Homo sapiens: one gene and its partner. The protein of the gene in region 1 interacts with the protein of each later gene in a pairwise test. Each region holds a gene or a part of one and is shown in the gene's direction. Other genes may lie near its edges.

The links.
Region 2: the proteins of SENP2 (region 1) and SDR16C5 interact in binary tests that used the Homo sapiens proteins (3 or more experiments, as listed by UniProt).

The regions. Positions count from the first base shown.
Region 1 is NC_000003.12:185,631,295-185,634,051, forward strand, and holds the end of SENP2 (sentrin-specific protease 2), read left to right. Parts: 3' UTR 1-2,257; downstream 2,258-2,757. UniProt on the Homo sapiens protein: Protease that catalyzes two essential functions in the SUMO pathway.
Region 2 is NC_000008.11:56,299,505-56,303,175, reverse strand, and holds the end of SDR16C5 (epidermal retinol dehydrogenase 2), read left to right. Parts: intron 1-1,602; coding exon 1,603-1,696; 3' UTR 1,697-3,171; downstream 3,172-3,671. UniProt on the Homo sapiens protein: Oxidoreductase with strong preference for NAD. Active in both the oxidative and reductive directions. Oxidizes all-trans-retinol in all-trans-retinaldehyde.

The DNA.
Region 1 (2,757 bases):
GACTTGTAAAACTCCTGGTTTAGGACATGGGGCCTGTGGTGTGGATGGAAAATGCTGGGCCTACTGGATGGTCAGCCAGAGGCCATGTGGTGGGTGATGACTGAAGCGGGAGCAGGTTGTACCACACCTCTCCCCCCCCCCTCCCACTCCCCCTCCCTCCCTCTCCCCTCCCCCTCCCTCCCTCCCCCCTCCCTCCCTCCCCCCCCTCCCCCTCCCTCCCCCTCCCTCTCTCCCTAACACCCACCCTCCCCCTTTCCCCCACCCTCCCCCCTTCTCCCCTTTCCCCACCCTCCCTCCCCCCTTCCCCCTCCCCCCCCCCCCCCCGCAGCCCCTGCTCCTTTCTCTGGGCTCCTGGCATTGTGCCAGTGAGTGCTGGGACCAGGTAATGAGCACAGCCAAAAAGGCCAGAGGTTCACTAGGTCAGCATCATACCAAACGCCTGGCTTTCACCAGGCATCAGTGTGCTTCACTTGAGAGTTTGGTACCATGGTTAAGATCGAGTCCATGCTAGGTAAGTCCTGTTAGGAATGTCAGTTTGTATTCCGCCCACGTGAATGATGCTGAGCTTAATGTATTATTTTGAGGGGCTTCTTCAGAGCAGTTCTCACTGAGCTTTCCATTAACCTACACTCTTCCGGACGGCTCTTAAAACTTGCAGGACATAATGAAATTGGGAAGAGCAGAGTGTTGAAGTCTATAGCATGGCCTTCTGCTTGACCCTGAGTTCCTGAATTGAATGTGGGAGACCACAGGCCATACTTCTCTAGGCACTCACATGTCTCCCTTGGCATAAGGAAACATGTTAGTAATATAGTTTTTTAGATCCAAACAGTTTATTTGGATCTAAAAGTTTAAGTGTTCAGTTGAAAAACAGCTATTGATTTTATTAGTAGCAAATTATCACCATTAAAGCCAGTGGTTTTTTTTTTGTTTTTTTTTTTTGTTTTTTTTTTTTTTTTTTGCGACAGAGTCTCTTGTCGCCCAGGCTGGAGTACAATGGTGTGATCTCAGCTCACTGCAACCTCCGCCTCCCAGGTTCAAGCGATTCTCCTGCCTCAGCCTCCTGCGTAGCTGGGATTACAGGTGCCCACCACCACACCCTGCTAATTTTTGTACTTTTAGTAGAGATGGGGTTTCGCCATGTTGGCCAGGCTGGTCTTGAACTGCTGACCTCAGGTGATCCACCCGCCTCGGCCTCCCAAAGTGCTGGTATTACAGTCATGAGCCACCTCACCCAGCCTGTTTTTGAGACGGAGTTTCACTTTTGTCGCCCAGGCTGGAGTGCAATGGCGCTATCTCAGCTCACTGCAACCCCCACCTCCCAGGTTCAAGCGATTCTCCTGCCTCAGCCTCCCGAGTAGCTGGGATTACAGGCATGTGCCACCACCCCTGGCTAATTTTGTATTTTTAGTGGAGACGGGGTTTCTCCATGTTGGTCAGGCTGGTCTTAAACTCCCGACCTCAAGTGATCTGCCCGCCTCGGCCTCCCAAAGTGCTGGGATTACAGGCGTGAGCCATTGCACCTGTCCCTGCCAGTGTGTTTTTAAAATAGTTTAGGGGGTTGAGAAAAGATGCAGTGAGCCATTATTCTCCTTTAGCAGGTAGTCTCTTAAAAATTGATGTGGATTTTAAAAATATACCATTGAGAACACGTATCTTTCTCAAACTTGACCTTGAACAGAGCTGGATGGGGGTGGGAGGGAAACAGATTTGGGGCATATGGAAGATATTCTTGGGAGCCCCATATTCTACCTCAGTTACCGAAGGCTATTAGAACCTCTGAATTTTTCCTCCTCTGAAATCCTAAGCACAACTTCAGAAAACCATGTCTGATAGCGGATGTCTTCCTGCTGTGAGGAGCTGCTTGATGTGGGGACCAAGGTGTGGGTGTGGGCGGAATGTATCCTAGTAGAAACAGTGAACCTCAGATATGAATAAATAAGCAAGAGACCGAAAGTTAAGTGTGTGACAACCTCAGTACTGTAGTTAAGCTACATTCTTTAAATTAGCTTTTGTGAACTGATTGGGAACCTAATCTCTTTTGTAACTGTTTGAGAAAAACTCTGAAGCACCTGATATTCAAACAAACTTATGGTACTTACTAACTCATTTGTAAATTGGCGATGTAGCTGGCTGTAGTATTGCTTTGATAATTTTTTTCTTTTAATTTACCTAATATATATAAGGAAGGGGTTTGGATATATTAAAATAGGTGTTAATTTTATCTATTTACCAATAAATTCATCTCTTTAATTCAGTGGCTTTCACTTGTTTTTTATTGCAACTCATAGGAATAAGTATTTTATGTTGTGACCACACACACACACACACACAGTGTGATTGTATATGGACACAAACAACATTGCACATACACTTTTGTGAAGTAATACATATCCTTACTATGATGATAGTTTTATTTCAGTTTTTAAAAACATTTAGGTTGTAACCACCAAGTTGATTTCTCTGCCCACTAATGGACAGATAATGCAGAGAAGGAAAATACTGCTCTAAGTGACCTGACCGCGAGGCAAATGATGTTTAAAACCATAAAGCCTGAGACCAAAAAATACCATATATATTATAAATGTGAGGCTGTTTTGAGATGACTCCATCTAAATCTAGGAAAACAGACTAGCAGCTTTGAGACTTTTGATGGAAATATGTGGTGGAAACAATCTTTAGGTTCTCAGATGGGCATTTCCTAAAATGTGTTAAGTAGAAGTCTTGTAACTTGTATAAAAAATATGAAATCCCAGC
Region 2 (3,671 bases), on another chromosome or scaffold:
TGCCTGGCTAATTTTTGTATTTTTAGTAGAGATGGGGTTTCACCACATTGGCCAGGCTGGTCTTGAACTCTCGACCTCAGGTCATCCACCCACCTCAGCCTCCCAAAGTGCTGGGATTACAAGCATGGGCCACTGCACCCGGCCAAGATTTACGTTGTTGTTTTTTTTTTAATTTTACTCTTTAATTTTTTTTGGAGACAAGGTCTTGTTCTGTCACCCAGGCTAGAGTGCAGTGGCTTGATCATAGCCCACAGCAGCCTCAAACTCCCAGGCTCAAGCCATCCTCCCACCTCAGCCTCCCAAATAGCTGGGACTATAGTTGTGCACCATTATGCACAGCTAATTTATTTTTATTTTTTTAGAGATGGGGTCTTGCTATGTTGCCCAGGCTGGTCTCAAATTCCTGGCTTCAAGCAATCCTCCCACCTCAGCCTCCCAAAGCACTGGGATTACAAGCATGAGCCACCACATCTAAGTGAGATTTAATTTTTTTTTTTTTTTTTGAGATGGACTCTTGCTCTGTTGCCTAGGCTGGAGTGCAGTGGTGCAATCATGCCTCACTGCAACCCCCACCTCCCGGGTTCAAGTGATTCTCCTGCCTCAGCCTCCTGAGTAGCTAGGATTACAGGCGTGCACCACCACACCTGGCTAATTTTTGTATTTTTAGTAGAGATGGGGTTTCACCATGTTGGCCAGGCTGGTCTCAAACTCCTGACCTTGTGATCTGCCCACCTCAGCCTCCTAAAGTGCTGGGATTACAGGCGTGAGCCACTGCGCCCGGCCGGTGAGAATTAATTTTAAGAATGGTGTTTGGTGGGTGGAGGGAGTCTCATAAAGAAGGTAGTACTTGACCAGAGACTTGAAGCTGTGGGAGGGATGAACCACCTGGAGATCTTGGGGTGCCCAAACAGGGGAACAAGGAGCATGGGGTCCTTTCCTTTACCCCCACCTTAGGATGAGTCTCAGGTTTCCCGTGCCTGCTTTGTTTCCTTGCTCTGCAGTATTGAATGCAAAGGCCAGTGGAGCAGAGTGCTCTGTTGGGATGATGATCATGCATGTATATGGCTTTGCAGAGGGGCAGGTGTGGATGGAGAAGATGGACAGTGTTAGTTGGGTCTTGCCCAAGGTTTGAGGAGCTATTGCATCTCATCCTCACAGTAGCGCCAGAAAGGCAGACTGATGACCTCATTTTACAGTTGAGGAAACTGAGGTCTATGAGCTGAGTCGATTGCCTAAGGCGGCACTGCAAATGACAGAGCTAGGATTCCAGCCAGGCTCATCTGCCCCCAAAGCGCATGCCTACAGGACAAGACTTCACTGCTTCCTCTGTGTCATTGTACAGTGGAGTGATGCTTTGGAAACCGAAATGAGAAGTGAATTGAATAACTTAAGCCAGAAGACCTGTCAAGGCCCTGGGCGAGTGTCCCCGGATATAGTGAACAAGGCCCAGTGACCCTGAGGCGGGTAGCACTCAGGCTGCATAGTGTGTGCATGAGTGAGTGACTTCATCTGCCACAAGAGGTGACACTGCTTTTCAGTAGAGGTGGTAAAGAGGCTTTCATGAATGATAATAAAGAAAGTTTATTCTTGTGTTCTCTTTAGCTTTTTGCCCCTCAAGACAGGACTGCTTATAGCTGACTATTTGGGCATCCTTCATGCAATGGATGGCTTTGTTGACCAAAAGAAGAAGCTCTAAAGACCAACTCTATGGCTAAGGTCATCTGATACACAGTGTTACATAATGCGTACTTCAATGAAGAAAAGTATTTTTGTCTGACAGTGGAATATATCTGGAGACCACAAGTACCACTCCTATTCTGTTATCTGGACTAGAATTTTCAATCAATGTGTTTGAAAATAATGTTGCTATCACCTATTTGGTTGAGTTTTGGTTTTTTCTTTTTCTTTTTTTTTCCAAAAATAAAGACAGCCCATTTTTGTCATTTCCATTACCACAGATGTAAGAAAGTGATAAGCCATGGCCATGAGCTGCCCTGAGCTTTGGTCGTTGGGGAGGTGGCTCAAATGGAGCCAGCGGCTGTGGTTGACCTGCCTTGGGGAGCAGGGCTGAGGGGCGAAGAGGACATGTGGATATCCAGCCAGAATGCCCTCTCTCCAGAGGACACACAGCTCTGGATTTCTACCCCCTTGCTATCCTCTCTGGCCATTTTGAACCTGTACCACCTAATGTAGAAAAGGCCCGCCTCCAGTGCCCTTCTTTCCAAAACAGCTACACAAATGCTTCTGAATGCCCTGGATACGCAGACCGAGTGGCAGTCTGGCTAAAGGCCCATCCAGCACTATTGTGCCCAAGAGCCTTACCGGGCATTCCCTGAAGCCCCCTCATAGGCAGTGATCCTAGACCAAACTCTTAAATAGAATCACTTTTGTTTCCTAGAAGAGATCAAAGAGTGGTTGCTTCTTACTTTGAAGATGAAATTATACCAAGTTAGGTTTTTTGCTATCTATTGATCCAAAAAATATATTCGTGCAATTAAAGTTAAGTGTTCAACTTAGTATTTCAAGTTGGGATTCAGGTTGAGGCATTTTCCTGCAGAATGGGCAATTTTATGCATTTATATTCATCAGTGCTGCCCTCACTTTGGATCTATTGTATTCTTACAGTTTAATCAACTGGCAAAGTGCTTTCATGCTTTGGAGATTAACTATAAAAGCAAGATTAAGAAAAATATGTTAATTACCATATCCCTGGAACTCCTTCTCAGGCTGGTGGGGGCAGCCTTGCAAGAGAAACAGCAGCCTTTGTCTCTTCCCTCTTGTGGGGAGCAAGGAGGGGATGAGCGGTACCTTGGGAGACCCGGTAAAAGTCTAAAGAATTGAGAATTTGACTATCTTGGGGGTAAAATGCTGTCATAGGGGCAGCAGTCTCAGGGGGTGTAAACTCTGGAATCCACTATGGTTTACCTTGAGTGGCCTGCACGAACATGACAGCCCTGATCTGTATTTCCTTTCCATTCAGAAAACCTTAAAAAAAAAAAACTTGTTTTATGATAATATTATAACAATCATAACTAACATTTACTGTGCCCGGCAGCAAATTAAGTATTTGACAAACATTATTTCATTAAACGAGACTGTCAATCATTACTCAAAGAATGATGAAGGTATTTGGTGTATGCCAAAGAATAAAGGCGTTTTATTTCACAGTGACATCTTATTCCACTGTAGATGTATACTGAGAGGATCAAAGGCCCTCTCAGAGTCACCCACTGATGTTCCAAATCCTTGGTTAACAAGGTTAATTAAGAGAGAAGCACAATATTGCTGTAATATTACAATTCCAGAAGCGTATCTTCTAGGGTCCTGTCTATTTAGTTAAAGAATAAAGCTCAGACTCTTCGGGGATTCAGTACAACAAAGGTCCAGGAGCACTGCAGGCATCCTCCACATCATAACAGCATTAATAGCAATTATTTCTAATTGGAGTGCATCTTGGCTGGACTGCGACAAAGGCCTGAAATTCAATTGTGGTTTTAAAATACCCATAAAATTGTCTAAACAAATTCAGATTTACTTGAGATGCTTCTATGAGAAGAGACCACATGTAAATTAGTGGATTCTAGAGGGCACTAAATAACAAGGTGATTTAATGCCCTGGGGAGCAAGGAGTGCTCTTGGCATGTGTGTCATGCCCGTTTCCATCAAAATTT